Linked DNA regions of Homo sapiens: region 2 is linked to region 1. The links come from fine-mapping of genetic effects on gene expression. A gene starts in region 1. The other region holds a variant in brackets. All regions are shown on one strand. Distances are between the middles of the regions. Region 1 holds the start of KXD1 (KxDL motif containing 1). Region 2 overlaps UBA52 (ubiquitin A-52 residue ribosomal protein fusion product 1).

The links.
Region 2: its variant is fine-mapped to the expression of KXD1 in esophagus muscle (GTEx, PIP 0.94).

What each region holds. Positions count from the first base shown.
Region 1 is chr19:18,550,963-18,567,126 of GRCh38, reverse strand. It overlaps KXD1 (KxDL motif containing 1), which reads right to left and starts at 9,257. Exons shown (of 5, transcript NM_024069.4): 1 at 9,213-9,257; 2 at 4,970-5,091; 3 at 2,106-2,258. The coding sequence starts at 5,070. It also overlaps a transcript of UBA52 not described here. RefSeq lists enhancers at 4,439-5,024, 8,649-9,438, 9,439-10,230 and a silencer at 8,999-9,158.
Region 2 is chr19:18,576,032-18,592,195 of GRCh38, reverse strand. UBA52 (ubiquitin A-52 residue ribosomal protein fusion product 1) reads right to left here. Exons shown (of 5, transcript NM_001033930.3): 5 at 14,646-16,164. It overlaps REX1BD (required for excision 1-B domain containing), which reads right to left and starts at 3,398. Exons shown (of 5, transcript NM_001100418.2): 1 at 3,296-3,398; 2 at 3,119-3,201; 3 at 2,513-2,783; 4 at 1,263-1,342; 5 at 1-88. The coding sequence starts at 3,394. The coding sequence ends at 16. RefSeq lists an enhancer at 24-547 and a silencer at 3,051-3,570. The variant G/T (reference allele first, on the strand shown) is at 11,140.

The DNA of each region.
Region 1 (16,164 bases):
GGGGAGAGAAGGCACACAGGGCTTAACCTGCTGAGCAGGTAGGCTGGGCCTGGTGCTGGCCACAAGCCCCTGCTGCCAGCTGAGGGCAAGGGGAGACGGGAGTGAGAACCCCCACACTGTTCATCACCTCACATCTTCACTCTCTCTAGGTGCTCGGCCCAGCAGCCACGGCCCTGACAGTCGCCCACCAGCCGGCCTCCAGCCCCAAGGTAGGCACCAACCCCCAACTAGTTAGACTCTGGGTGCTCTGAGCCTAGGCACTGGCTGGGGGCTCCCCCTGCGAGGCTGCTTCTTACATGTGGCCTCTTCTCTGATAAATTTTTTTTTTTTTTTTGAGACAGAATCTCACTCTGTCGCCCAGGGTGGAGTGCAGTGGTGCCATCCTGGCTCACTGCAACCTCCACCTTCCGGATTCACATGATTGTCCTCCCTCAGCCTCCCAAGTAGCTGGGATTACAGGCACGTGCCACCATGCTCAGCTGATTTTTTTGTATTTTTAGTAGAGACGGGATTTCATCATGTTGGCCAGGCTGGTCTCAAACTTCTGACCTCAGGTGATCTGCCTGCGTCAGCCTCCCTAACTGCTGGGATTACAGGCATGAGCCACTGTGCCCAGCCATTCCTGCCTTTTCATTATGTGTCTAGCACTATGTTACTTTTTTTTTTTTTTTGAGACGGAGTCTCGCTCTGTCGCCCAGGCTTGAGTGCAGTGGCGCGATCTCGGCTCACCTCCTGGGTTCATGCCATTCTCCTGCCTCAGCCTCCCGAGTAGCTGGCAATACAGACGCCCACCACCACGCCCAGCTAATTTTTTGTATTTTTAGTATTTTTTGTATTTTTAGTAGAGACGGGGTTTCACCATGTTAGCCGGGATGGTCTTGATCTCCTGACCTCGTGATCCGCCTGCCTCGGCCTCCCAAAGTGCTGGGATTACAGGCATGGGCCACCTCGCCCAGCCGCACTGTGTTACATTTTTTAAGAATAAATAAACTGCAAGGCTGGGCATGATGGCTCATGCCTATAATCCCAGCACTTTGGGAGGTCGAGGTGGATGGATCATCTGAGGCCAGGACTTCGAGATGAGCCTGGCCAACATGGGGAAACCCTGTCTCTACTAAAAAAATACAAAAATTACACAAAATACAAAAATTAGGCTCACACCTGTAATCCCAACACTTTAGGAGGCCGAGGCAGGCAGAGTGCTGGAGCTCAGGAGTTTGAGACTAGCCTGGGCAACACGGTGAAATCTCGTCTCTACTAAAATACAAAAAATCAGCTGGGCGTGGCAGCATGCGCCTGTAGTCCCAGCTACTCAGGAGGCTGAAGCAGGAGAATCGCTTGAACCTGGGAGGCGGAGGTTGCAGTGAGCTGACATTGCACCACTGCACTCCAGCCTGGGCGACAGAGCAAGACTCCACCTCAAAAATAAAACAACAACAACAAAAATTAGCTGGGTGTGGTACAGTATGTCTGTAGACCCAGCTACTCAGAAGGCTGAAGCACAAGAATCGCTTGAATCCAGGAGGCAGAGGTTGCAGTGAGCCAAGATCACGCCACTGCACTCCAGCCAGGGCCACAGATCAAGACTCTGTCTCGGCCGGGCGCAGTGGCTCACGCCTGTAATCCCAGCACTTTGGGAGGCCAAGGCGGCTGGATCACGAGGTCAGGAGATCGAGACCATCCTGACTACTAACACGGTGAAACCCCATCTCCACTAAAAATACAAAAAATTCTCCAGGCGTGGTGGTAGGCACCTGTAATCCCAGCTACTCCGGAGACTGAGGCAGGAGAATGGCGTGAGCCCGGGAAGCGGAGCTTGCAGTGAGCTGAGGTCGCGCCACTGCACTCCAGCCTGGGCAACAGAGCGAGACTCCGTCTCCAAAAAAAAAAAAAAAACTCTGTCTCGATCAATTAATCAATCAGTAAATAAACTTACGTCAAGATTTTATCCCAGGGTTGGAATTGTCCCAGACACTTAAGTGCGCAGTGAAGCCTTGTAAAACAAACAGAAATCTCCCTTTACCCTGGTATGTGAAGGAAACTGAGGCTCAGATGGGGAGGTGGAGGCAGAGGTCAGCTGGGCTGGGGTGGCACTGAGCACCCACCTGATACGGCGGAAGATGCTGTCCAGGTCCCGTTTCATCTCTACTAGGGTCCTCGTGTGGTGCAGGAAGCGTTCGCTCATCTGCTGCAGGCGGGCACTGGACAGGTTGTTGAAGTTGAGCAGCATCTCATTGGTCTTCTCAAAGCGGTCCAGCCTGATGGTGGAGAGAGGGCATGAGCTTCACTGCCCAGCTTCAGGGCCCTGCCCAACCTGGCCCAGAAGACTGTTCATGCCAAGCCCTTGCCTGCTTCACAACCTTTGCATGGGCTGTTCCCTTGTCCTGCAGAGTTCTACCTACTCTTTGAGCCACCTAGCAAACTCCTATTCAACCTTCAAAACCCTACTCAAGTGTGTCCTTCTCATGTAGCCTTGTCTACCTCTATTCAGTCAGACTTTTTTTGAGACAGAGTCTTGCTTCGTCACCCAGGCTGGAGTGCAGTGGCGCGATCTCGGCTCACTGCAAGCTCCGTCTCCCAGGTTCATACCATTCTCCTGCCTCAGCCTCCCGAGTATAGCTGGGACTACAGGCGTCCGCCACCATGCCTGGCTAATTTTTTGTATTTTTAGTAGAGACGAGGTTTCACCAGGTTAGCCAGGATGGTCTCGATCTCCTGACCTCGTGATCCACCCACCTCGGCCTCCCAAAGTGCTGGGATTACAGGAGTGAGCCATCGTGCCTGGCCCAATCAGACTCTTTTAATTCCACTAGCCCCAGGTTGTTCCTCTGGCCCAGCCCTGACACCATAGGGCCAGGAGGGTCTGTGTCTGGCTTTGTCTCCCCTCAGTCTAGAAGTTTCCCAGAGCCAGGTCTGAATCTGACCTAAAAAAACAGGAGACCAGCCGGGCATGGGGGCTCATGCCTGCAATTCCAGCGCTTTGGGAGGTCAAGGCAGGCAGATCATGAGGTCAGGAGTTCGAGACCAGCCTTGCCAACATGGGAAAACCGCGTCTCTACCAAAAATACAAAAATTGGCTGGGCATGGTGGCGGGCGCCTGTAATCCCAGCTACTCGGGAGGCTGAGGCAGGAGAATCATTTGAACCCGGGAGGCGGACATAGCAGTGACCTGAGATTGCGCCACTGCACTCCAGCCTGGGTGACAGTGCGAAACTATGTCTCAAAAAAAAGGAGACCAGCACTTTAGGAGGTTGAGGCAGGGTGGATCACTTGAGGTCTGGCCAACATGGTGAAACCACATCTCTTCTAAAAATAAAAAAATCAGGGCCGGGCACGGTGGCTCACACCTGTAATCCCAGCACTTTGGGAGGCTGAGGCGGGCGGATCACGAAGTCAAGAGATTGAGACCATTCTGGTCAACGTGGTGAAACCCCGTCTCTACTAAAAATACAAAAATTAGCTGGCCGTGGTGGCGCACACCTGTAGTCCCAGCTACTTGGAAGGCTGAGGCAGTAGAATCGCTTGAACCCAGCAGGCAGAGGTTGCAGTGAGCTGAGATTGCGCCACTGTGCTCCAGCCTGGCGAGAGAGCGAGACTCCGTCACAAAAAAAAAATCAGCCAGGCATGGTGGTGCATGCCTATAATCCCAGCGACTCAGGAGGCTGAAGCAGGAGAATCACTTGACCCAGGAGGCAGAGGATGTAGTGAGCAGCAATTATGCTATTGCATTCCAGCCTGGGCGACAGAGTGAGACTCTGTCTCCCAAAAAAAAAAAAAAAAAAGACACAGGAGAGAGACAGGTACTATTGAGACTCGGAGCTGCTCTGGGTCTGGGAGAAAAGGTAAGGAAATCAGGTCTGTACTGTGTCGTGACAGCTGAGAAGAGCCTCTGGCTCAGAGACACAAAAACAAAGCTGCGGGAGGCTGTGCTTCCACTCCAAGACTGTATTAGCCCAGTGGTGTCCAGTCTTTTCATTTCCCTGGGCCACATTGGAAGAAGAATTGTCTTGGGCCACACATAAAATACACTAACACTAACGACAGCTGATGAGTTAAGAAAGAAAAAGAAAAAAATCACAAAAAAAATCTCGTAATGTTTTAAGAAAGTTTACGAATTTGTGTTGGCCCACATTCAAAGGGTTGGACAGGCCGAGGGTTGGACAAGCTTGGTATTAGCCTTTCTTCCCCACAGGGCAGGCCTGAATTAGGGCAAGGTTTCAGCAGCCACAGCACCAAACCCCAGTGAGGACAAGAGGCCTTTATGTCCGCTCCAAGAGACCCTGGGCACTGTGCAGACACAGCCTGGGCTCTGGGAGACTAGTCCTTCACCAGGAAGTAGGCGCACCAGCATAAAACCTGCATAAAGGCCAGGCACAGTGGCTCAGGCCTATAATCCCAGGACTTCGGGAGGCCGAGGCGGGTGGATCACTTGAGGTCAGGAGTTCGAGACCAGCCTGACCAACATGATGAAAGCCCGTCTCTACTAAAAATACAAAAATTAGCTGGGCATGGTGGCACATGCTTGTAATCCCAGCTACTCAGAGGGCTGAGGCAGGAGAAATCGCTTGAACTCGGGAGGCGGAGGTTGCAGTGAGGCAAGGTCACACCATTGCACTCTAGCCTGGGCAACAAGAGCAAAACTCTGTCTCAAAAACAAGAAACAAATAAACAAAAAAACCTGCATGTGGCCCCCTCTGGTCCTTCAACTCTCCCACCCCAGGTCTCGGGACAGGAGCCCCTGCGGCCCCCGCCAAGCCATCCGCAGCTGCAAAATCTCCCCAAAGCCCTGCTTCCTGTGCCAAGGCCTCGCCTCCAGGCCGGGAAGGAATTTACTTTGGAGCCAGCGACAGATTTGCTCATTTCCTTCATTTTATCACCAGTGTGGGCCCCGGGTAGGGGCGGGCAAGACAAGAATGTTGGCCAGCCTGTGGATTCCTTCCCACGCTCAGGTCCCCCAGCCGCCACTCACATGTTCTTCTGGGCCAGGATGATGGCGTTGACATCATCTGTGTTCACCATGCTCAGGATGCGGCCGCAGAAGACCCTCGAGGCCGAGTCCGGGAGGTCCATCTCTTTCTCCTCCTCCGCTGCCTGAAACAGGCAAGAACAGAGTGGTCTGCACTAGTCACCAGGTGAGGTGGGACCAAGAGGCCAGGCCGGGACCGCCATGTGCTGGAACCTAACCCAACCGTGGTGGTATCCTACAGTGGGGATGTGTGACTGTGGCTCAGTCATGCCACCTGAACCTCAGGTGTGCCACCCCAGGAATTTGGAGGTATTGGGCAAACTAAGAGAGGTTGTATTTGTAAACTGTACCCAAGCACATTAGAATCCCATCACCTCCCACTTCCATGAGCCCAAGGCCACAGGTACCTCTCACCTGCACAGATCTGCCAGCTTCCTCCCTCATCCCCTGCCTAACAACTGCTGTCCTCACAAGCTGAACGTGTGTGGCTGCTTCAGCAAATCATCACCACCTCCAATGTCTCCTCTCCCAAGAGGTCAATGACTCCTGTTCCCGTCACTCTTACCGCTTCTCTTACTACTTGACCTCGTTTTTTTATTTCTTTTTGATACAGAGTTTCACTCCTGTCACCCAGGCTGGAGTGCAATGGCGCGATCTTGGCTTAGCGCAACCTCCGCCTCCCAGGTTCAAGCGATTCTCCTGCCTCACCCTCCCAAGTAGCTGGGATTACAGGTGCCCGCCACCACGCCTGGCTAATTTTTGTATTTTTTAGTAGAGACGGGGTTTCACCATTTTGGCCAGGCTGGTCTCGAACTACTGACCTCAGGTGATCCACTCGCCTCAGCCTCCCAAAGTGCTGGGATTACAGGCATGAGCCACCGCGCCCAGGCTACTTTACCTTGTTTTTGTTTGTTTGTTTGTTAAGAGACAGGGTCTCGCTATGTTGCCTAGGCTGCTCTTAAATTCCTAGGCTGACACGACCCTTTTGCCTTGGCCTCCCAAAGTGCTAGGATTACAGGCCTGAGCCACTGCGCCCAGCCACCCTTTACCTTGATTTAACTGCTTCACTGGTTCACCTCTTCATGAAATTATCCTAGTTATCAGCTAACCCGTTTGCCTGTCACCGCCACAACGTCAGCTCCAAAAGAGCAGAGGTGGCCAGGTGCTGTGGCTCACGCCTGTAATCCTAGCACTCTGGGAGGGCGAGGCAGGTGGATCACGAGGTCAGGAGTTCGAGACCAGCCTGGCCAACATAGTGAAACCCCATCTCTACTAAAAATACAAAAATTAGCCAGGCATGGTGGTGGGCACCTTTAGTCCCAGCTACTCGGGAGCTTGAGGCAGGAGAATCACTTGAACCCAGGAGGCGGAGGTTGTGGTGAGCCAAGACTGTGCCACTGCACTCCAGCCTGGGCAACAGAGAGACTCCGTCTCAAAAAAAAAAAAGAAGGAGTAGAGGTGTGTCTGTCACCAGAACCCGACCCGGAGTCTGGCTCATAGCAAGGGGCTGCCAGAATGTTGTTGTGGGGAAGGGCAACAGAACTTTTCAAACTCAGCTCTGACGTGACACTTTTATTAGCAAATTAAAGCCAAGAATTGCAGGTACTCACAGCCAACCTGTGGGCCCCAGCAATCCAGATGGTTCTGAGGTTCCCAGTTTTGCTGGCACACAGATGACCGTAATGGCAGGCAGGGACTTCCCGGAGCAGCCAGGGTAGGAGGGGCTACAGCACTGACCCTCCTAGGGAGTTCAGGAAAAATCTAGGATCTTGATATAGTTTGGCTCTGAGGCCCACACATTTAATAGCCAAGAAACAGAGACGAACTTCTACTGGATCAGAAAGGGTTTCAGAGGCCGGGTGTGGTGGCTCACGTCTGTAATCCTAGCACTTTGGGAGGCCGAGGTGGGCAGACTGCTTGAGGTCAGGAGTTCAAAACCAGCCTGGCCAACATAGTGAAACTCAGTCTCTACTAAAAATACAAAAAAAATTAGCCGGGCATGGTGGCGGGCACCTGTAGTCGCAGCTACTTGGATGGCTGAGGCAGGAGAATGGCTTGAACCTGGGAGGCAGAGGTTGCAATGAGCCGAGATCATGCCACTACACTCCAGCCCGGGCGACAGAGTGAGACTCCATCTCGAAAAGAAGGAAGGAAGGGAGGGAGGGAGGGAAGGAAGGAAGGGAGAGAGAGAAAGAGAGAGAGAAGGAGAGAAAGAGAGAGAGACAAAGAGAGAAAGAGAGAGGAGAGAAAGAGAGAGAGACAGAGAAAGAGAGAAAGAAAGGAAAGAGAAAGAAAGGGTTTCAGAGCTCACTTAATGTACTCTCCCATTTATTCAGCAGCTACTCTATGCTAAACAAAGCATCAAGCTCATACATACTGTTATCATTCTTATTTATAGATGAGAAAACTGAGGCTCAGGGACACTGAGAAACTGGGCCACTGTCACACAGCCAGTGAACCTAAGTCACAACAAACGGCCACAGCCCACGGGTCTCACAAAGGTGTGAATCTGAACAGGTGCACAATATCCAGCTGTGACAGGACAGTGGCTTCTTACAGCAGCTGATTTCTGCCTGACTTCTGATGTTTCTCCAGGAAAAAGGAAACAGGGATTTTTTTTTTCTGGGAAATTGCCTCATTGACAAATGTCAGCAATCAATACTTTTTTCCAAGATATCATGGAGGCCAAGAGCATCTATTTGTGATCTGTATCTGGTCAGTGGTTTGCAGCACCTTCTAGAAATAAGGTGCCACACCCAGCAAAACCCCCTTCCCTCTAATAATAACTATGGTTATTGAACTCCTATGACATGCCATGCAGAGACACCCAGTCTCCACATTCCCAAAGAAGCATGATCTTGTATAAAGAGGATACCTGGACCGGGTGCTCATGCCTGTAATCTCAGCACTTTGGGAAGCCAAGGCTGGTGGATCACCTGAGGTCATGAGTTCAAGACTAGCCTGGTGAACATGGTGAAACCCCCGTCTCTACTAAAAATACAAAAATTAGCCAGGCATGATGGCGGGCACCTGTAGTCCCAGCTACTCAGGAGGCTGAGGCAGGAGAATCGCTTGAACCCGGGAGGCAGAGGTTGCAATGAGCCAAAATCAAGCCACTGCATTCTAGTGTGGGCTACAGAGGGAGACTTCATCTCAACTGAAAAAAAAAAAAAAAAAAAAAAAAAGACACCTGGAGAGGGAGGCCCATAGCTAGTACCAGTGAGACACAGTACTGGGACCTTCTGGGATACACTCCTCCTTCAAAACAGGACTCTTTTCTGTCTCTGGCTCCCAGATGTGAGGGCTGAGGGGTTCCTGGCACCTCCCTCCCGTCCCCCCGCAACTTCCTCTCCCAAGAAGCCTTCCCTGATTACTGCTAGTCTGGCCCACATACACAGTGAAATTGACCCAGCAAGAGCTCTGATCCCAACTCCAAATGTAGATTTATTGAAGAAACGCAGAGAGGTAGGCTGTTTGACCATGGGAGAGCCACTTCACCCTTCTGAATCAGTTTTTTCAACCATAAAATGAAAATAAGGTAGAATGAAGATCTCACAGTGCTGTCTGTGGCAACTGAAACCAAAGGTGATAACGACTGGAGCTCAGGACAGGCTGTTTCTCCAAGAGGAGTGTGAAGAAGTCCCGGGAATCAACATTTTGAGAGCATCCCAGGGGCCTCTAAGAATATATTACGGGCAAACACTTGTAGAGCACTTCATTTCATCCTCAATCACCGTTACGAGGCAGACACAATCATCTCCGAGTGAAACTGAGGCTCACAGGGGCGGGCTCCGTTGCCGAAACTCACAGGGAGAGGCAGAGAAGCACCACGGTTCTATATCCAGGTTATTTAACAGAATTTAACTCAGCCATCCAAGCTCTGAAAAACCCCAAGTGGGGAGGGGCTCAAATATCCCCTCACGCCCCGTCCCCTACAATACAGGGAAACTGAGGCACAAACCGGGCAACGCCCAGCTCCAGGTTACACGACACACCCAGAACACAGGAGGCCCCAATTCCTATGCCCCTGATCCGGATCCAGATCCAGCCCGTAGCGCCGCCTGCGTATCCATTGAGCAGACGGGGAAACTGAGGCCTGTGCGCAGCAGGAATGACCAGATGTGGCCAGTGGCGCACCCCACCCCACCGCAGCCCGGGGGCCGCGCCCGACCCGGACCGGTTCCCCGCGGCCCTGGAGTCCCCAGCCCCACCCCAAACTCGGCCCCGGCGTCGGTAGCGGCGGCACCTGCACATCTGGCGGCCTTGCTCGCGCTTCCGGGATGGCGCCCGCGCCGGCGAAACGTCACCACGCACCGATCCTGCGAGCGCGCGTGGCGGGGACGTACCCTGGAGCCGCTTGCGTGCGTTAAGTCACGACAGGAAAGGGCGGGGCTTAGACGGAGCTTCAGCTCGTGGGTGCATCACAATGAATAGCCAATCAAACAATTCATCTCGCGCCTGCGTATTTCCAGAAGCCCAGGCTTGAAAGCGGCCCGGAAGAAGGAAGGCTGAGAGAAGTGTCCCATTTTGTAGATAGTGTGACTGAGGTCCCAGAGTGGTAACCCTCCCCAAGGTCGTAAATGCTACAGTGGTCAGAGGCCAAACCACACTCAGGTGTCCTGCTTTCCAAGCAGGGAATTAGACTCATCTGTGTTCAGACATCCCTGCTCCACTTTTGCTGATTTTTTTGGTCCAAGTTTCCTTTTTTTTTTTTTTTTTTTTTTTTTGAGACAGAGTTTCGCTCTTGTTGCCCAGGCTGGAGTACAATGGCGTGATCTCGGCTCACCGCAACCTCCGCTTCCCAGGTTCAAGCGATTCATCTGCCTCAGCCTTCCGGAGTAGCTGGAATTACAGGCATGTGCCACCATGCCCGGCAAGTTTTGTGTTTTTAGTAGAGACAGGGTTTCTCCATGTTGGTCAGGCGGGTCCCGATCTCCCGACCTCAGGTGATCTGCCCGCCTCGGCCTCCCAAAGTGCTGGGATTACAGGCATGAGCCACCGCGCCCAGCCCTGGTTTCCATTTACACTTCCACGTTGTTTTGGAGTAATGCGCTGGGGAATTTTTTCAAAAGGGTTTACAGGCTGGGCGCGGTGGCTCACATCCTGTCATTGTAATCCGAGCACTTTGGGAGGCCGAGGCGGGCGGATCACGAGATCAGGAGTTCGAGACCAGCCTGACCAACATGGTGAAACCTTGTCTCTACTAAAAATAAAAAAAATTAGTCGGGAGTGGTGGCGGGAGCCTGTAATCCCAGCTACTCAGGAGGCTGAGGCAGGAGAATCGCTTGAACCCAGGAGGCAGAGGCTGCAGTAAGCCAAGATCGCACCACTGCACTCCAGCTTGGGCGATAGAGCAAGACCACGTCTCAAAAAAAAAAAAGAAGGTCAAGCTAAAAAATGAAGAAAATGTATTTTAAGTTCATGTTAGTTTGTGTATACGAGTACCAAGTTTTTGTAATAAAATGCCTCACAGCTACAATTGGAAAAAAAAAAAAAAACGGGCCTGTGGCCCGAGCCTGTGGTCCCAGTTTCTCAAGAGGCTGAGGTAGGAGTATCGTTTGAGGCCAGGAGGCAGAAGTTGCAGTGAACGAAGACCCCACTCCAGCCTGGGCAACAGAGTGAGACCCAGTCTCAAAAAACAAACAGGCCCGGCGCAGTGGCTCACGCCTGTAACCCCAGCACTTTGGGATGCCAGGCGTGTGGATCACCTGAGGTCGGGAGTTTGAGACCAGACTGGCCAACATGGTGAAACCCCGTCTCTACTAAAAATCCAAAAAAAAAAAAAAAAAATTAGCCTGGCGTGGTGGCAGGTGCTATAATCATAGCTACTCAGGAGGATGAGGCATGAGAATCTCTTGAACCTGGGAGGCGGAGATTGCAGTGAGCCGAGATTGTGCCACTGCACTCCAGCCTGGGTGACAGAATGAGACTTTGTCTCAAAAAGCAACAACAACAACAACAACAAAAATCGCTATAAACTGATGTGGATTAATAAATCCACATCATTATAATTATAATTATTTCCTTTCCTGCCCCTTTAAATTAGCTCCTGGCTGGGTGCAGTGGCTCACGCCTGTAATCCCAGCACTTTGGGAGGCCGAGGCGGGCGGATCATGAGGTCAGGAGATTGAGACCATCCTGGCTAACATGGTGAAACCCTATCTCTACTAAAAATACAAAAAATTAGCCAGGCGTGGTGGCAGGTGCCTGTGGTCCTAGCTACTCGGGAGGCTGAGGCAGGAGAATGGTGCAAACCCGGGAGGCGAAGCTTGCAGTGAGCAGAGATCGAGCCACTGCACTCCAGCCTGGGCGACAGAGCAAGACTCCGTCTCAATAAATAAATAAATAAATAATAAATAAGCTCCTGTGTCCTTTTAATATGTCGCCACCATTCTCTGAGCATTATTTATCTTGGGCTCCACAACATGATCCAATGCTGTGTAAAATCCCTGGAATCAGCCATTTCTCCAAGGAACCTGGTTCCTTTGCTTCAAGAGTAGGATTTAGAAACCAAGATCAGTCGGGGCTCAGTGATTCACGCCTGTAATCCCAGCACTGTGGGAAGCTGAGGTGGGCAGATCAGGAAGTCAGGAGTTCGAGACCACCTGGGCCAACATGATGAAACCCCCCCATCTCTATTAAAAACACAAAAAAATTAGCCAGGCATGGTGGTGGGCACCTGTAATCCCAGTTACTCGAGACACTGGAGAATCACTTGGAACTGGGAGGCAGAGGTTGCAGTGAGCTGAGATCACCCACTGCACTCCAGCCTGGGCAACAAGAGCGAAACTCTGTCTCAAAACAAAAAAGAAAGAGGCCGGGTGTAGTGGCTCACTCCTGTAATCCCAGCACTTTGGGAGGCTGAGGTGGGCAGATCACCTGAGGTCGGGAGTTCGAGACCAGCCTGACCAACATGGAGTAACCCTGTCTTTACTAAAAATACAAAATTAGCCAGGCATGGTGGCACATCCCTGTAATCCTAGCTACTTGGGAGGCTGAGGCAGGAGAATCGTTTGAACCTGGGAGACAGAGGTTGCAGTGATCCGAGATCACACCACTGCACTCCAGCCTGGGCAACAAGAGCGAAACTCCATCTCAAAAAAAAAAAAAAAAAAGAAAGAAGGAAAGAAAGGAAGGGAGGGAGGGAGGGAAAGAAGGGAAAGAAAGAAAGAAATTAGCCGGGTGCTGTGGCTCATGCCTGTAATCCCGGCATTCTGGGAGGCCGAGGCGGGCAGATTACCTGAGGTAAGGAGTTTGAGACCAGCCTGGCCAGCATGGTGAAACCCCGTCCCTACTAAAACACACACACACACACACACACACACCACACACACACAATTAGCTGGGCATTGTGGTGCACACCTGTAGTCCTAGCTACTCGGGAGCCTGAGGCAGGAGAATTGCTTGAACCCAGGAGACAGAGGTTGCAGTGAGCCAAGAACACGCCACTGCACTCCAGCCTGGGCAACAGAGCAAGACTCCATCTCAAAAAAAAAAAAAAAAAAAAAAGGCCGGGCACGGTGGCTCATGCCTGTAATCCTAACACTTTGGGAAGCCAAGGCAGGCAGATTGCCTGAGCTCAGGAGTTCGTGACCAGCCTGGGCAACACAGTGAAACCCTGTCTCTACTAAAACACAAAAAGTTAGCCGGGTGTGGCAGCGTGTGCCTGTAATCCCAGTTACTAGGGAGGCTGAGGCAGGAGAATGGCTTGAACCAGGGAGGCAGAGGTTGCAATGAGCTGAGATTGCGCCACTGCACTCCGGCCTGCGGGACAGAGTGAGACTCTGTCTTCAAAAAAAAAAAATTAAACTAAGATCTGGGTGCTGTGTGTGCTCATTGCTGCTGGGGTGTCACTGCTTCTAGAGGTACCCGTCAGCAGGCACAGCTAAACAATAAGCCAGGCGTGGTGGCACAAACCTGTAATCTCAGCTACTCAGAAGGATGAGGTGGGAGGATCACTTAAACCCAGGAGTTTGAGGCTGCAGTGAGCTGTGATCAAGCCACTGCACTCCAGCCTGGGTGACAGAGACCCATTCTCCAAATAAATACAAATCATGAAGCTGGGTGCAGTGGTTCATGCCTGTAATCCTAGCACTTTGGGAGGCCGAGGCGGGCAGATCAGTTGAACTCAGGAGTTTGAGACCAGCCTGGGCAACATGGCAAAAGTCTGTCTCTACAAAAAATACAAACATGGCCAGGTGCACTCCTGTAATCCTAGCATTTTGGGAGGCTGAGGGGGGCAGATCACCTGGGGTCAGGAGTTTGAGACCAGCCTGGCCAACATGACGAAACCCTGTCTCTACTAAAAACACAAAAATTAGCTGGGCGAGGTGGCGCATGCCTGTTATCCCAACTACTTGGAAGGCTGAGGCAAGAGAATCGCTTGAACCCAGGTGGCTGAGGTTGCGGTGAGCCGAGATCGTGCCGTTGCACTCCAGCTGGGTGATAGAGTGAGACTCTGTCTCAAAAAACAAAACAAGTGGCCAGGCGCGGTGGCTCAGTGGCCAGGTGCAGTGGCTCAAGCCTGTAATCCCAGGACTTTGGGAGGCCGAGGCAGGTGGATCATGAGGTCAGGGGTTTGAGACCAGCCTGGCCAACATGGTGAAACCTCGTCTCTACTAAAAATACAAAAATTAGCCAGGCATGGTGGTACGTGCCTGCAATCCCAGCTACACACAAGGCTGGGCAGGAGAATCACTTGAACCCAGGAGGCGGAGTTTGCAGTGAGCTGAGATCGCGCCATTGCACTCCAGCCTGGGTGACAAAGTGAGACTCTGTCTCAAAACAACAACAAAAACAAAAACAAAAACATTAGCTGGGCGTGGTGGCGCATGCCTGTAGTCCCAGCTACTCAGGAGGCCGAGGTGAGATCACCCGAGTCCCAAAGGTGGAGGCTGCAGTGAGCCGTGATTGCACCTCTGCACTCCAGTCAGGCAACAGAGCAAGACCCTGTCTCAAAAAATAAAAAATAAATACAAACCATGAATTCATACGGAGATGAGGATGCCTTTTCTTTTTTTGAGACAGAGTCTCGCTGTTGTTGCCTGGGCTGGAGTGCAATGGCGCCATCTCGGCTCACTGCAACCCTGCCTCCCAGGTTCAAGCAATTCTCCTGCCTCAGCCTCCTGAGTAGCTGGGATTATAGGCGCCCACCACCATGCCCGGCTAATTTTTTGTATTTTTAGTAGAGACGGGGTTTCACTATGTTGCCCAGGCTAGTCTCAAAGTCCTGACATCATGATCTGCCTGCCTCGGCCTCCCAAAGTGCTAGGATTACAGGAGTGAGCCACCGCGCCCGGCCAAGGATGCTTTTTTTTTTTTTTTTTTTGAGGTGGAGTTTCACTCTTGTTGCCCATGCTGGAGTGCAATGGCAGGATCACGGCTCATTGGAACCTCTGCCTCCCAGGTTCAAGCGATTCTCCTCCCTCAGCCTCTCGAGTAGCTGGGATTACAGGCATGCGCCACCACATCCGGCTAATTTTGTATTTTTAGTAGAGATGGGGTTTCTCCATTTGGTCAGGCTGGTCTCAAACTCCCGACCTCAGGTGATCCGCCTACCTCGACCTCCCAAAGTGCTGGGATTACAAGCATGAGCCACCGCGCCCTACCTAGGATGCCTTTTTTTTTTTCTTTTTTTTTTTTTGAGACAGAGTTTCGCTCTTGTTGCCCAGGCTGGAGTATGATGGCGTTATCTTAGCTCACCGTAATCTCTGCCCCCTGAGTTCAAGGGATTCTCCTGCCTCAGCCTCCCGAGTAGCTGGGATTATAGGCATGTGCCACCACACCCTACTAATTTTGTATTTTTAGTAGAGATGGGGTTTCTCCTTGTTGGCTAGGCTGGTCTCGAACTCCCAACCTCAGGTGATCTGCCGGCCTCAGCCTCCCAAAGTGCGGGATTACAGGCGTGAGCCACCACTCCCGGCCACTAGGATGCCTTTTTTAAAGTGAGATAATCCAAGTTAAATGTATGAACAAAACAAGGTGAATAGTAATTGCTCCATACATGTTTGCTTTTCAGAAGTGTGTCATTAGGTTTAAAAAAATAAAATTAATGTTTACAAGTAATTACTGTTAGCTATTGAGATTCTATACGGTGTGTATGTTATAAATTATATTTGTAACTTCTCTGAGTCTCTGTTAATTGCGAGTCTGTGTAATCACAACATCTATCTCTGAAGGTTGTTGAGAGCTTGGAAGATAAACACACAAGTTCTTGGGCACATGAAGACTGTTTCAGAGCCCTGGAATTACACATATCTGAGTTTTAAATCCTAGCTGAATGGCCCTGGGCAAGCGGCTTAACTCTATGAAATCACGTAGGCAAAATCCTTACAACAAGACTTGGTACACAGTAAGCCCTCAGTAAACTGTTGATAATATCGCTCCCAGGTTCTGCTGCCGTCATTCATGGGAAAGTCAGTGACTGGGAGGCAGAGGCTGGAGGATCCATTCAGCCCAAGAGTTTGAGGCCAGCCTGGGAAACATTGAGACCTTGTTTCTAAAAAAAATTTTAAAAATTAACTGGGCGTGGTGGTGCACATCTGTAGTCCCAGGTGCTTGGGAGGCTGAAGTGGAAGAATTACTTGATCCCAGAAGTTCCAGGCTGCAGTAAGCTAGGATTTCACCACTGTACTCCAGGCTCGGTAACAGAGGGAGACCCTGTCTCAGAAAAAAAAAAAAAAGAAGTCAATGAGGACTGGAATCCTTTTTTTTTTTTTGAGACAGAGTCTCGCTCTGTCGCTCAGGCTGGAGTGCAGTGGCGCAATTTCAGCTCACTGCAAGCTCTGCCTCCTGGGTTCACAGCATTCTCCCGCCTCAGCCTCCGGAGTAGCAAGGACCACAGGTGCCTGCCACCACACCCAGCTAATTTTTTTTTTTTTTGTATTTTTAGTAGAGACGGGGTTTCACCATTCACAGGATGGTCTCGATCTCCTAACCTTGTGATCAGCCCGCCTCGGCCTCCCAAAGTGCTGGGATTACAGGCATGAGCCATCACACCCGGCAGGAATTCTTATATATTTAGTTCAACAATTGGTTTTTGTTGTTGGTGGCGGTTTTTTTTTTTTTTTTTTTTTTGAGACTGAGCCTCACTCTGTTGCCCAGGCTGGAGTACAGTGGCGTGATCTCAGCTCACTGCAACCTCTGCCTCCCGTATTCAAGCCATTCTCCTGCCTCAGCCTCCCGAGTAGCTGGGATTA
Region 2 (16,164 bases), 25 kb before region 1:
CCTGGGGAGCCGCCATCACTCGGCAGATTCCGCATCAAACCTAAGGTCCTGGAGAACCTCGCTGATCGCCTCCATGGTTTTAATTACCCTACAAGAGCGGATGGGAACTATAAATAAAACCCAGATGGGGTGAATTAGCTGCTGCCGCGAAGCTGCAAGAGGGCTGTGGCTGTGGTGAGCCCCAGGCCCTCCTGCCCGCCGCCAAACCTCCAGGCAGCACTAGCAGCAAGAGGGAACACTTAGGTGCTAGGGAGAAGGGGTGGCCCCATAGGTCACAGTGGGCTGAGAGAAAAGGCCATCTGGGCTGGGCATGGTGGCTCACGCCTGTAATCCAGCACTTTGGGAAGCTGAGGCAGGCAGATCACCTGAGGTCAGGAGTTCAAAACAAGCCTGGCCAACATGGCGAATCCCCGTCTCTACTAAAAATACAAGAATTAGCCAGGCATGGTGGCGGGCATCTGTAATCCAAGCTACTTAGGAGGCAGAGGTTACGGTAAGCCAAGACCGCACCACTGCACTCCAGCCTGGGTGACAGAGCAAGACTCTATCTCAAAAAAAAGAAAGAAAAAAGAAAAGAAAATAAAGGACCAGGCGTGCTGGCTTACGCCTGTAATCCCAGCACTTTGGGAGGCTGAGGTGGGCAGATCACGAGGTCAGGAGATCGAGACCATCCTGGCCAACATGGTGAAACCCATCTCTACTAAAATACAAAAAATTAGCTGGGCGTGGTGGCACGCGCCTGTAGTCCCAGCTACTCAGGAGGCTGAGGCAGGGGAATCACTTGAACCCGGGAGGCGGAGGTTGCAGTGAGCTGAGATCGCGCCACTGCACTCCAGCCTGGTGACAGAGTGAGACTGCATCTCAGAAAAAAAAGAAAAGAAAAGGCCATCTTGGTGGGGTGTGTACCATTAGGAGGTTATGAAGTGTGACTTTGTCAAATGTGTGTGTACATGAGTGTGTGTGCTTGGGGGCTGAGGACAGGCATCTGAAGGTCTGTGCTCAGTGGGGCATGTCCAAGCTCCACGGACAGCCACGTGTGCAGGATTGGCATGTGTCGAGGTATACAGCAGTGTCCCAGCAATGCACAGCGAAACTGATGTGAAGTTTCACGGCTGTGCCCTCTGGGGAAGTGTACATCTGAGGGCCACCAGGTGAGAACACCATTGTGCACTGGCAGAGGGTTCCTCTGCTGGCAGCGTCCTGACCGTGCCAACCCTGGTGCAAATCGAGCATAGCCAGGCGGCTTGGGCAGCAGCGCTCACTTCATTTTCAGCTGCTGCATCCGTACAGCGTCCTCCTGCCCCGCCAGCTCTGGCGTCTCCATCAACTGCAGCAGGGCCACCTGGTGGGGGAATGAGCAACACGAAGGATGTCTCCACGAGCAGAACCCACCCCCTGCCCTCCAAGGATGTTCAGGAAAAAACAGAGGCACCCAGAAAGGCAGTGCCCGGGTAGAACCACGAGGGGCAGTGCTTTGTGTAGGAAGAGTCCGAAATTCAGTTTAGAGGCTCTCTCAGAAAGGAGACAGCAGGCAGGCCAGAGGCAGTGCTGAGCGCGATGTGGGCGTGGCCTGGGAACAACAGTGACGTCTTAGCCAGGCATTGGCCGTAGGGGTGGGTTAGGTTGCGCCTCATGGTCCCAGGGACGGGGACCCAGGATAAAAGTAGGCCAAAAAGCCTGGACGCGGTGGCTCACGCCTGAAATCCCAGCACTTCGGGAAGCAGAAGAGGGCGGATCGCTTGAGACCAGGAGTTCGAGACCAGCCTTGCCCATATGGCACAACCCCGTCTCTACTAAAAAAAATACAAAATACAAAAATTATGCCTGTAATCCCAGCTACTCAGGAGGCTGAGGCAGGAGAATCGCTTGAATCTGGGAGGCGGAGGTTGCCGTTAGCCGAGATCGCGCCATTGCACTCTAGCCTGGGTGAGAGAGCAAGAGAGCAAGAGCCTGTCTTAAAAAAAAAAAAAAAAAAAAAAAACACCAGAAAGAAAAAGGCCAAAGAGACGCTGAGACGGGTCGCTCATGGGGGGCGTGGCCTAGGAATTCCAGTCACACACGGTTGCAGGGCCGAGCAGGCGGATCGCAAGAGAGAAATAGGCAAAGAACTAAAGCTGTGATGGAGGAATAATACGGAGGAGGCGTGGCCTGGGACCCCCCTCGCCTGTATCTACGGGAGGTTGAGGGTGGGACCCTAGACGCGGAACAACCAGAGTGGGTGGAGCATTGTTGGGGCGGGATCTGGGCATCTTGGAATAGCATTTAGGCGGAGCTGGGAGAAAGCGGGAGTGCTCTGGGAATAAGGACAAAACTTGGGAAAAAAATTGGGGATGAACAGCAGAGGGCAAGGTCCGAGAATCCCCAAGTGAAGCCTTAATAGAGGATTGGGGTGGGACAGGAAGGGGTGAGGTCTGTGTATGGGATACTGGGACCACCCCCCAACCAGGGGTGCGTCATGAGAGGAGCCGGCCAGGGTCCTAGAGACACGGCGGGGAAGGGGTGGTGGCCTCACCGTGCCCAGCCGCGTCTGCTCCAGCTCCTGCAGGCTGCGCACGTGGCCGGCGAGCAGCGGCTGCCTGCGAGGCCCGCCCAGCTCTGCTTCCACCGCCAGCACCTCCCGCGAGGCGGCGGCGAAGGCCTGGGTCACCCCGTGCACTGTGCTCCGGTAGCGCGCGAAGTCGTAGTCAGGGCCGCTGCGCAGGTACTGGCGGTGGCCTCTGCGGCATGTGGGGACCCTGAGGCCGCGCCCCCAGGCTCTCAGGCCCTGCACCGGCGCCAACCACCTGAAAGGCCCCCAGGAAGTGTCCCCAGACACCAGAGGGGAGGACTGGTAGGTAGGAAGGACGCTTCCTGACTCCCGCAGGGGAACGCGAGACAGGCCCACCCCTGCTCTTGGGGAGGAGAGAGAAGCCACGAAGAGTGAGTCGTCGGGTAGTGGGGACGTGCTGTGGGGCCTTTTTCGTGAAGGTGAGGACCCGGTGCCCCGAAATCCCCGCCCCATCTGACTCTGCAGCCACACAAGGACCCAGCTCCTCCTCCAGGCACGCCCGCCGAGAACACGCCCACGCCCGGAGCGGGCGGGGGACCGAACCCTGAGCCCCTCCGCGCCCCCACTCACTCCTCCAGTCGGCGGAAGCCCTGCGCGCGCTCAGCCTGCAGCTGGTGGATGCGCTGCACCAGCGTCCGGATCGGGGCGTCTTTCTGCGGGACAGGGGGCACGGCTGGGGCATGAAGCCCGCGCCCCTGGGTCTGCGCCGCCCGCCCCGCGCCCGTTCCCGCTTGGGCCTGGGCTCACCCAGGGCCACGCCGGCTCCTCGCGTCCCCGAGCTTCGGTGGCCTCCTCAGCAGCAGGCACTGCAGGGACCGTAGGCTCCGCCGCGGTCTCGGTGATCATGACTGCGCAGCCCTGGCCAGGCTCCGGAGCAGGCCCTTCCGCTGCGCCCGACGCCCCCTACAGGCCGGGAGGTCCACGGACCCCCTACCCTGCGGCCGGCCAGCCAGAAGGAAGAAAGGGGAACCAAGACCGCGGGCCGCCCAGTCAAGCCCACCCTTCTTGTTCCCGTCCAGGGCCCGCCTCCGATCGTGTTTTTCCTTGATTGTGCGGCTCTGAATACAGAACAGCTGTTAGCCTTGAGTTCGTTCCTATGCTTGTATCTCAACACCGACTTCCACTTGAAGCGGGTACTGAGCGTGGGTTTTGACGTTCAAGAGTGTTAAGTAAGCCTGGGCAACCTAGGGAGGCCCGATCTCTACAGAAAAACCAATTAGCCCGACATGGTGGCTCCCGCCTCCAGTCCCAGCTACTCGGGAGGCTGAGGTGGGAGGATTACATGAGCCCGGGAGTTGGGGGCTGCCATGAGCTATGACCATGCCACTGCACTCCAGCCGGAGCCACAGTGAGTCTGCCTCAAAAAAAGTGCAGTGGCTGGAACTCCACCAACATTAACAGAGATTCACTGGCTCTTCAGAGAATCACAGGGGTGAAGACAAGATTCAGTGACAGGGACGGTGTCAACAGCCCACCGAGTTGAATTGGGTGTCTTGTGTAATAGCCCTGAGCCTGGAGCATAGCAGGGGCCAGAACGACCTCAAAGTACAGAGGAGGCCTTGGAGCTTCCTGCTGGAGGGATACATGGGCTAGACAGAGCTTTGGAAAGCTTCCTCCTCCAGGGGCCCAGCCGGAGGAGCAGGAAGATGCTGGTAGCCTGACTTAGTGAAGAGGGACCAGCTCAGGTATGGGGTGACAGACACCAGCCTTTAAGGGGGAAGGGACTAGGCTGTTAGTGAGTTGGGAGTTTTTCTTGCCGATGGGTTCGTGGTCTCGCTAACTTTGAAGAATGAAGCTGTGGACCTTCGCGGTGTGTGTTACAGATCAAAAAGAGTCCACGGACCAGGAGAGTGAGCAGCAGGGCAGTTTATTGAACAAAGCGAAAGGAAAGCTTCCACATGCTGGAAGGGGACCCGGAAGGGTTGCCGTTGCTGGCTCCGGTGGCTAGGGCTCATATCCCTATGTTACCCCTCCCCTTTCTTTTTGTCCATTGAGAGTGGTTCTTTTTTCAATCCTCCTCTGGAGTGTTTTTTTTTTTTGTTTTTTTTTTTTTTTTTTTTTAGTGAGACAGAGTCTCGCTCTGTCGCCCAGGCTGCAGTGCAATGGCACGATCTCGGCTCACTTCAAGCTCTGCCTCCCGGGTTCACGCCATTCTCCTGCCTCAGCCTCCCCAGTAGCTGGGACCACAGGCGCCCGCCACCACACCCGGCCAATTTTTTGTATTTTTAGTAGAGGCAGGGTTTCACCGGGTTAGCCAGGATGGTCTCAATCTCCTGACCTCGTGATCCGCCCGCCTCGGCCTCCCAAAGTGCTGGGATTACAGGCGTGAGCCACCGCGCCCGGCCTGGAGTGGTTAATTCTGAATCCTTCACTCGATTGGTTAAGAACTCAAAACACTGAGTCACAGGGGTCTTCTGTGAAAGTCCCCAAACCTGCCCAGTAAATCCTGCCAACTCCACCCCTCAGTCCCCTCTCTCAACAGGAGAGCCCAACTGCTGTTGGGGTGTGGGAGGATGACCACTCTAATTGCTTCCTGCTGAATAGGGGCATAGAAGGGGTTCTGTAGCTGAGGTTTCCTCGTGAGAGGTGGTTTGGGTGTCAACGTCCGGGTATGGGCCGGCAGGCTGGTTTAGGGGTCCTTGATAATAGGTGCTGGTTGAAGTCATCTGAGGTTCCATCTGCAGTAACATTTCTAGTTTCATTGATTCTATTCAGGAAGAAACGAAAGGATGAAGGAACTGAAAAGACATGGGCCAAAGGTTACTCCTAGAATAATCATAAGGAAGGGACCTAAAAATGGAAGAAGCCAGTGGAGAACAGGCTGTGAGAACCCTGAGGTAGTTTCGGTTGTCCCACCATGTAGTCTGCTAGCTCTATCCTGAAGTCATTTAATTCCATCTCTCACTATGCCTGATTTATTGACATAAAAACAACATTCCTTGTTCAGAAAAAGGCATGTTCCTCCCCTTTCGGCAGTGAGGAGATTGGAGATCTAGTGCTCACTGGTTCTGGAGAACCACAGCTGCTAATGAGTCTATTTGGTCCTGGATTTGAGTAAGTTGGAGAGAGATTTCATCTAGGCTGTGAGTCCACTTCCTAGGTGGTAGTAAATCCTAAACCAGCCAATAGAGGAAGTAGTGAGATTGCTCTCGGCTGAAGCTTAGCATGAATGGGCACAGCTACTGCCTCTTCTGAAAAGGAATAAGTCACAGGAGGTACTATGTAGGCTAAAGTACAAGTTCCTGTCCAGTTGGTGGGGAGGCAAATATAGAAGGATCTTCCACACACAAAGAAAACTCCTTATCAGGGTTCTATACACCCCTGTAGCTGAAAACTCATAAGGGCTGTGGTCAGTCTAAATTCATTTCTCATTCCCATGATTTGAGGGTTCAGGACAAATGGGCCACTCCTAGCAGTTGGAGCTGAATAGAATTTGCCAAGGACGTATTATGGGGTTCCTGTAAGGCAAACCGGTGGCTAGCTGCATTAAGAAAAACTCTCGGCTGGGTGCAGTGGCTCACGCCTGTAATCCCAGCACTTTCGGAGGCCAAGGCTGGTGGATCACGAGGTCAGGAGATCAAGACCATCCTGGCTAACATGGTGAAACTCCATCTCTACTAAAAATACAAAAAATTAGCTGGGTGTGGTGGTGGGCGCCTGTAGTCCCAGCTACTCGGGAGGCTGAGGCAGGAGAATGGTGCAAACCTGGGAGGCGGAGCTTGCAGTGAGGGAGATCGCGCCACTGCACTCCAGCCTGGGCGACAGAGCGAGACTCCATCTCAAAAACAAAACAAAACAACAACAACAAAAAGAAAAACTCGCGCACCCCAGACAGGAAGCAGGAAGCAATGGGGTTTTTTTAACCCTTTGCCTGTGAGAGAGGAACCAAGTCCCAGGAGGGGGATATCCTGGGCAAAAGGAAGTCTGCCCCAGCAGTAATTGCTTGTTGTTTTGGCCTCTGGTGGGGGAATTATTTGGCTTGGGGTGGTAAATCTTAAGGGATAGGTGACTGAAATAGGGTTTCCAAGGAACTCATGTTTATTTCCACAAAACATTGGGGTGCCAGTAGTCGTACTGTAAGAATTAGAATATTTGAACTCTATATCCAAGGCAAGCTATAGTTGCAGCCAGCCACGTGTCCCACACCTTGTGATCATGGGAACACTTGATGGGAGATACAAAGGAGTGGAGGCGAAGAGAAGGAGGTTATTGTGCCCACAGAACCTATGATTGGGATAGCTGATAGAGCGAATTGTCGGAGAATGGCGGCGGCTGCTTTTAAGGCTGCTTGAGCCCTGTCAGGGAAATTGGACCTATCACTAGGATGAAAAAATCCTGGACCCTTAGAAGTGTTAGCTATGTATGAGGCCTCAGAGCTTTCCACCCATATGTTGAGGGGGGCCGGAACTGCTGTATATAAGGGGGAAATTAGGGTTCATGCAAACCCAACAGGATGAGTTACTCTGATTGGGAAGTGCTTCAAATAAAAACCTGGAGGACATGTTTATAATTCCCTCAAGGTAGGCCGGGCACGGTGGCTCACGCCTGTAATCCCAGCACTTTGGGAGGCTGAGGAGGGCAGATCACGAGGTCAGCAGATCGAGACCACGGTGAAACCCCGTCTCTACTAAAAATACAAAAAATTAGCCAGGTGTGGTGGTGGGCGCCTGTAGTCCCAGCTACTTGGGAGGCTGAGGGAGGAGAATGGTGTGAACCCGGAAGGCAGAGCTTGCAGTGAGCCGAGATCACGTCACTGCACTCCAGCCTGGGCGACAGAGCGAGACTCTGTCTCAAAAAAAAAAAAAAAAAATAATAATAATAATAATAATTCCCTCAAGATTAGGGGAAGACATTGAGCGGGGAAAGGTTAAGACTTGGGCAAAGGCAAGGAATGTTAGGATGTTAGAGTACATTCTGTTTTTAAAACAAGAACTGAGGTAGAACTTATGAGCACTGATTAATTTTCCTTCTGAAAGAGGATACATAAGTCTTCCAATGGCTCGTGGGTGTAAGAAGGTTTGTCTGGCTGACTCTTAGATTCCCAAGCTAATGATTCTGCGGGTTTTTCAGGCTGTATCCAAGGTTTGATTCAGGTGTGATGGATCCAAGACTCCACTCCAATCACCTTGACTGCAGTTGGAGTGGAGAGGATAACCAAATATGGTCCTTCCCACGATGGATCTAGGGATGGGGAGGTAGAGGGGAGGGACTTGACTAATACTAGATCCCTGGGATGGAACGATGCTTTTCCCTTTTCTCGGTGGCATCCCTCGGGTAATGTCTTTAGGATTTGCTGGTACCTAGCCAAAGAAGTTATGTCCTTGACCAAGTTGGCAGTTTCTCAATCAAGTAAGAGGTTGTTTGTGAGAAAAGGCTGTCCATATAGCATTTCATAAGGACTGAGTCCTATCTTGTGGGGAGAATTTAGGATCCTTAATAATGCTATGGGCAAGAGGGTGAGTTTCCATGGGAGGTGAGTTTCTTGTGTTAATTTCCTTGAGTGCCTTTTGAGTGTTTCATTAATCTTCTCGACTTTCCCTGAGGATTGTGGTCCCTGGGCGCAATGAAGGTGATTTTTTTTTTTTTTTTTTGAGGGAGTCTCGCTCTGTCGCACAGGCTGGAGTGCAGTGGTGCAATCTCGGCTCACTGCATGCTCCATCTCCCGGGTTCACGCCATTCTCCTGCCTCAGCCTCTCGAGTAGCTGGGACTACAGGCGCCCACCACTACGCCCGGCTAAATTTTTTGTATTTTTAGTAGAGACGGGGTTTCACTGTGTTAGCCAGGATGGTCTCGATCTCCTGACCTCGTGATCCACCTGCCTCGGCCTCCCAAAGTGCTGGGATTACAGACGTGAGCCACCGCGCCCGGCCAATGAAGGTGATATTGTATCCCTAGCGCCTTGGAAATTCCCTGAGTCACTGTGGCTCTGAAAGCCGGGCCATTATCACTTTGTAAACTACAGGGAAGTCCAAACCTAGGAATTATTTCATGGACCAGGGCTTTGATTACCTCCTGGGCCTTTTCTGTCTTACAGGGGAAGGCTTCAACCCAATTCGTGAAGGTATCAACACAGGCTAGTAAGTATTGAAGTCCCCGTGACTTAGGCATATAAGTGAAATCTAACTGCCAGTCCTCTCCAGGGTAGTGCCCTGTCCTTTGTTCTCCATGAGGGGCTTGGCAATGGACCAAGGGGTTATTCCTTTGGCACACTTCGCAGGCCTTGACTGTCTGCCGGATGGTTTTAAGGAGGTCTCGTCCAGTGAACAGAGATTTGACCATTTGATGGGTATTCTCAATACCCCTATGGAATGTTTGGTGAACGGTTTTAAGTATTTTCCATTGATTAGCTGCGGGTATGGGCACCTTTCCCTCCTGAGTAGCTAGCCACCCCGAGGGGAGAAAACTATGTCCCCATGAAAGTCCCCATTCCATTTCTGCAGGGGAATACTGGGGCCTGGTCTCCTGAAGGGGGTTATCCCATACCAAGGGTCCCTCCATAGGTGTTTCTAATGGGAGGTCCCGTCTTGCGGCAACTTTGGCCTCAGCGTCTGTGCAGCGATTTCCTTTTGCCTCCTTTCCTTTGCCTTTCTGATGGCCTTTGCAGTGCAAGGCCACTACCACTTCCTTGGGTTTCTGCACTGCCTGTAATAATTTCATAATTTCTTCATGGTATTTAATGGGTGTTCCTCCGGAGGTTAGGAACTCCCTTTCTTTCCATATGGCAGCATGGGCATGTAGAACTAGATAAGCAAATTTGCTCTCTGTATATACATTTATACTTTTTCCCTTTCCCAGCTCTAAAGTTCGGGTAAGCGCCACTAGTTCTGCTAACTGGGTGCTGGTCCCTGGGGGAGGGGCCCACTTTCAACTACTGCTTTATCACTAACCTATGGTATATCCTGCCCTTTGTAATCCCTTTTCTACAAACGAACTTCCATCAGTATATATATAGGTTGAGGTCAGGGTTGGCTAAGGGGACCTCTAAAAGATCCTTCTGGGCAGCATAAGTTTGGGTTAAGAGCTGCACAAGTGCGCATCTGAAGCACCAGTCCCTCAAGTAATAAGGCCTGGTACCTAAGTAGGCGATTGTCTGACAGCCACAAACCTCCTTTAGCAGTTAGTATGCCGTTGACATCGTGAATAGTCCATACAGTGATGTCTCTCCCTTGTATTATTTTGACAGCCTCTAATACTAAAATGGCCACTGCAGCTACCACCTGCAGACAGTGAGGCCAGTCCTTTGCTACCACATCAATTTCTTTACTCAGATATGCTACTGGCTGTATGGTAGTCCCTCAAGTCTGGGTAAGGACTCCAAGAACTATTCCCATTCTTTCTGTGACATACAAAGAGAAATTTTGTCCCGTAGGTAGACCCAGAACTGGGACTTGTGTTAGGGCCTGTTTTAGGGTTCTGAAGGCTGCCTCTGCCTCTGGTCCCCATTCTATCAAATGGGTATTAGCTTTTTGGGTCTCCTTAATTAGAGTGTAAAGTGGCCTGGCCATTTCGCTGTATCTGGGGATCCACAGTTGGCAAAAGCCAGTTATTCCAAGAAACCCTGTCAACTGTTTTAATGTCTGAGGGTGAGGATAAGCCAGTATAGACTGGATAGGTTTTTTGTTGAGAGCCCTGGTTCCTTTAGCCAAAACCAGCCCTAGGTATTTGACCTGCTGTAAACAAAGCTGGGCCTTTGATTTAGATACTTTGTAACCTCGATCAGCTAGAAAGTTTAAAAGGCCTTGGGCTCAAATGTAATCCCAGCACTTTGGGAGGCTGAGGTGGGTGGATCATGAGGTCAGGAGATCGAGACCATCCTGGCTAACAAGGTGAAACCCTGTCTCTACTAAAAGTACAAAAAATTAGCCAGGCGTGGTGGCAGGCGCCTGTACTCCCAGCTACTCGGGAGGCTGAGGCAGGAGAATGGCATGAACCCAGGAGGCGAAGCTTGCAGTGAACCGAGATTGCGCCACTGCACTCCAGCCTGGGCAACAGTGCAAGACTCCGTCTCAAAAAAAAAAAAAAAAAAAGTCTTGGGTAGCCTGATGGCACAGGGTCTCTCAACGGGAGAAGTAAGTCATCCATATATTGAAGAATTAGGGTACCTGGGTGCAAGAAGTGACTTAAATCTTGGGCCAATGCTTGGCCAAACAGGTGAGGGCTATCTCTAAATCCTTGGGGCAAGACTGTCCAGGTGAGCTGAGATGTTTGATCTGAGGGATCCTCAAAGGCAAATAGGAATTGAAAGTCAGGGTGTAGAGGGATACAGAAAAAGGCATCTTTAAGATTCAGGACTGTAAACCACTCTGCTTCTTCTGGTATTTGAGAGAGCAATCTATAAGGGTTGGGTACAGCTGGGTATAAAGGAATTATGGCCTCATTTATGAGCCTGAGGTCCTGCACCAACCTCCATTGACCATTTGGTTTTTGTACCCCTAGAATTGGGGTGTTACAGGTGCTGTTACAACTTCTTACTAGACCTTGGGCTTTTAAATTTTTAACAATACCTTGTAATCCTTTTCGAGCTTCAGGTCTTAGGGGGTATTGTCTTTGGTAAGGGAAAGGGGTGGGGTCTTTTAGTTTGATTTGGACT[G/T]GACAGGCGTTCTTTGCCCCTCCAAATTGTCCTTCTAATGCCCAAACCTCAGGGTTGATTCCTTCCTCAAGTAGGGGACAACAGATAGGTCTTTTCTTCCCTGTATTCATACAGATGATAGCTCCTGATTTAGCTAATATGTCCCTCCCCAGTAAGGGTATGGGATTCTCAGGCATGATGAGAAAGGCATGTGAGAAAATTAAGGTTTCCCAGTTACAGCTAAGGGGGCGGGAGAAATACCTGGTTACAGGTTGTCCCAGGATCCCTTGGATGGTAACAGACCTTGAGGACAGCCATCCAGGGCAGGACAGTGGAACTGAGAAGGCTGTGCCAGTGTCCAGAAGAAAGTCGATTTCCTGGCCCTCAATGGTCAAACTTACCCGGGGCTCTGTGAGGGTGACAACACGAGCTGGTGCTTGCCCCGGGCACCCTCCATCCTGTTGCTGGATCATCTGGTTGGGGACTTCTGGCCCAGAGAACCTTTGTCCTCTGGGACAGTGTGCCTTCCAGTGATCACCTTGGCATAGTGGACATGGGTGAGAGGGCGGCTTATTTCTCTTTGGACAATCTTGTTTAAAGTGTCCTTGTAAACTGCACTGATAATAAGCCCTGCTGGGTGATTGGCCTGCTCCATTTTTTCTCCTCTTTGAACCGCCAAGGTTTGTCTGAGGGCATGACTAAATCTGCAGCCTTTCTCTTATCCTGCTTTTCCTTTTCGGCCTGTTCCTCTTGGTCCCTATGATAGAACACTGAGGTTGCCAGGTTTAATGATGCCTCCAAATTTTGCTCGGCCCAAGGCTAACTTTTGGAGCTTTTTCCTAATGTCTGCAGCTGACTGAGTAATAAATTTGTCCTTTAAAATTAACTGGCCTTCGAGGGAATCTGGTGACAGGGGAGTATATTTTCTCAAAGCCTCCCTCAGCCTTTTGAGGAAGGCAATAGGGTTTTCTTCCTTCCCTTGGGTTATAGTAGACATCATTGAATAGTTCATGGGCTTTTTCCTAGTTCTCCTTAACCCTTCTAGGATACAGGTCAGTAAATGTTTGTGACTCCAGTCCCCATGATCCGAGTCAGGGTCCCAGTGGGGATCCATACTGGGGACTGCTTGCTGGCCAGTAGGAAACTGCTCTCTTCTGATGTCATTCTATCACTTACTTAACTGAGGTACCAGGTATCCCCAAACTCTCGGGCTCCTGTTAAAGCAGCATTCTTCTCATTAGAGGTTAGGTCTGATCAAGCAATAACATGATCTCTCTCCAGGAAAGGTCAAAAGATTGTCCCAGACCCAGCAGGCCATCTACGTATCTATTGGGGTCATCTGAGAACTTTCATCCAAGTCTGCCTTAATTTGCTTTAGATCAGAGAGAGAAAAGGGAACATGTACTCGGGTTGGGCCAAATTCCCCTCCTACAGCCTGAAGAGGACATAGCCAGGGGCCAGTGGGGTCTCTTGGCTCTCTGAAGGCTCTTTTATTTGTTCCCTTTTGGGCTGTAGAAGCCAGAGAGGGTTTGGCATTAGTAGGAGGAGCCGTGGGGAGGACTGGGTATGGGGGTAGAATTTGAGGACTCCCTGTGGGGTGCAGGTTACATGTCTTACACAATCGTGGGTTATCATCCCTTAATGAGAAAAAGGTCTGAACATATGGTACCTAAATCCACTTGCCTTCTTGTTTACAAAACAGATCTAGTTGCAGGATGGTATTATAGTGTATACTTCCCTCAGGTGGCCATCGTTCTCCTCCTGGAAGAGGATATTGTGGCCAGGCAGTGCTGCAGAAAAATATGAGCTGCTTCTTCAATGTCTGGGGATCAAATTGGTCCCAGTTATTCAGAATACACCTCAGGGGCGACTTCACTTTGGAGGGAAAATCTCCCATCTGAAAGGAAAGCATAGGGATGCCCGCACCCCTAGTCATTCCCAGTGGACACTGGTTCTAGCAGGTCCCCTACTGTTTTAGTGTCCATTTTCCAGGGTGCACAATCACCCATGGAACCCTGCTTATCAGATTTAATTGTGCTTACCGACGTAGCAGTTTCAACCACATTCTTTTCCCTCCCTTCTTAGCCACAAAGAAGGAGGCCAGGCTGCTGGGTTTAGCGGCCTCTTACCAGTGCGCCCGAAAGTTTTTGTTCCAGTGAGTGGGTTCTAAGTTTGGGGTGTATTCTTAGGTGGTTTACAAGGCTCCAGTTAGCATATTTCTGAGCTTGAAACTGCCCCAGTAAGATGAACTCCTTAAAGATTGTACATAGACATAGCAATTTTAAGGCGGGGGGCAACAGGGGATTGGGCCAAGGCTGAAATAGTGTCTCATGCACTACAGCCTTTTGTCCCCGCTTTCCATCTTAAGAATACTACTTTTGATCTCCCAGTCGATGGTCTATTATTTTACTTAACTCCCACAAATGCGAGTGGTACCCTGAGTGGAAGAGCTCCGTAGTTTGGATTGCTGATCCTAAACAAGAGAAATGATAGGTGAAATGGTTCCCAGTGAGGTGGGGACGACAGAAAGAGAAATGGCCTAAGCCTTCCAGTAACCATTGGCACACACTATATTGTCCTGGGTATTGCCTTCGGTGTCGAATATGGGGAACAGGTCCTGTATATTTGCATTGTTGCCCATCTACATTAGAATAAGCCATGGGGGCCGGGCGCAGTGGCTCACGCCTGCAATCCCAGCACTTTGGGAGGTCGAGGCGGGCAGATCACGAGGTCAGATCGAGACCAGTCTGACCAACATGTGAAACCCCATCTCTACTAAAAATACAAAAATTAGCCAGTCATGGTGGCACGTGGTGCCTGTAATCCCAGCTACTCAGGAGGCTGAGGCAAGAGAATTGCTTGAATCCGGGAGGTTGAGGTTGCAGTGGGCCAAGATCGTGCCGCTGCACTCCAGCCTGGGCGTCAGAGCGAGACTCCATCTCAAAAAAAATAAAAAAATAAGCCATGGCACATCAGGAACACAGATCTGAGGGTTGCCATCCTAATTGTTTTAGATTCCTAATCCAGAGGGTTTTCATCCTGGGGGTAGAGAGAATCCTGGAGACAAGTTCTCAAGAAAGTCTTCCTTATAGACGTTTGGACCTAGGAGGCATGCCTCTCGAAGGGTGGGTGAAGTGCGTTTGGGTGGCTGTTTAACAAAGGTTTCACAAAGCGCTGTCATCTCGACTGGGCGTTACCAGGAGCTTGGGGCCACTGTTTTCCACCCTTGGCCAGCCCTCGGTTCAACCCAGAAAATGCAGAGAAAGTGGGAACTGGTTTCTAGGCAAAACAACACTCTCGATTCAGAAGGGCTGGGGGTTGTTAGAGAGCCCTTTCTCAGATACCCTTACATCTGTGTCTTTAGTCAGGCGGCGGCACTTGTCGCTTTTAAATGGCCGACAGGTGCCCGGTGTTTGCCCTCAATTCTAAAGAAAAGTAGAGCAGAGTAGCAAGCGAAAGAGGTCCGATGTTACCGCTTTGGAAATCCTGGGTGAGCCCCCACGATGAGTCAGTTTCTCCTGCCGATGGGTTCCTGGTCTCGCTAACTTTGAAGAATGAAGCTGCGGACCTTTGCGGGGAGTGTTAACAGTTCAAAAAGAGTCCACGGACCAGGAGAGTGAGCAGCAGCTGTTTATTGAATGAAGCGAAAGGAAAGCTTCCACATGCTGGAAGGGGACCCAGAAGGGTTGCCATTGCTAGCTTGGGCGGCTAGAGCTCATATCCCTGTTACTCCCTCCCCTTTCTTTCTTTTTGTCCATTAAGAGTGGTTCTTCCTTCAATCCCCCCTTGGAGTGGTTAATTTTGAATCCTTCATTCGATCAGTTAAGAACTCAAAACCCTGAGTCATGGGGGTCTTTTGTGAAAGTCCCCAAACTGGCCCAGGAAGTCCCGCCAACTCCACCCCTCATTAGGATGCATCACTGGCCTCGTGCACCGGCTTCACCAGCACTGCACCCTAATCAAAACAGGGGCCAGCAAGGTGCCTCACCCCTGTAATCCCAGCACTTTGGGAGGCTGCGGCAGAACTGCTTGGACCCAGTGCAAAACCATTCTGGGCAACATAGCGAGACCATGTCTGTAAAAAAAAAAAAAAAAAAAAAAATGTAGCAAGGCCAGGCGCTGTGGCTTACGCTTGTAATCCTAGCACTTTGGAAGGCCAAGACAGGTAGATCACAAGAGGTCAGTAGTTCAAGACCAGCCTGGCCAACATAGCAAAACCCTGTCTCTACTAAAAACAGAAAAACTAGCCAGGCGTGGTGGTGGTGGCGCACACTGGTAATTCCAGCTACTCAAGAGGCTGAGAAAGGAGAATCGCTTGAACCCGAGAGGCAGAAGCTGCAGTGAGCCGAGACTGCGCCACCGCACTCCAGCCTGCACGATGGGAGCAAGGCTCCATCTCAAAAAAAAAAAAAAAAAGTGATAAAAAACCAAAACTAAACAGGAGGCTTTTAAGTTCAGGAGTTTGAAGCCAGCCTGGGCAACATAGCAAGACCCCATCTCTACAAAATATTAACCGAGTGTGGTGGCACAAGCATGCAGTCCCAGCTACTCGGGAGGCTGAGGCAAGATCCTGGGAGATCAAGGCTGCAGCAAGCTATGATCCTACCACTGCACCCCAACCTGGGTGACAGTGAGACTGTCTCAAAATTTTAAATCAGTAAATAAAACAGGAATTGGTCTGTGCTCACCCCATCTAAAAAACTCTTGACCTTATGATTTGCCCACCTCAGCCTACTGATCATTACAAGCTTTAAAAACACCAAAGCAATTATCTGAGTGTGGTGGTGGGTGCACACCTGTAGTCCTGGCTACTTCGGAGGCAAAGGAGAGAGGATCACCCAAGCCTGAGTTCCAGGGTACAGGGAGCCATGACCACACCACTGCATTCCAGCCTGGGTGACCTTAAGGGGAAAACACCAAGGGTTGCCCTTCTTAAGAGTGATTATCATAGGAGAGGGTACAGCTCAGGGGCAGAGCACTGACTGCAGACCATGAGTGATGTCACGGCCTCAGATTCAAAACTGAGTAACTGGGCCAGGCGTGCTG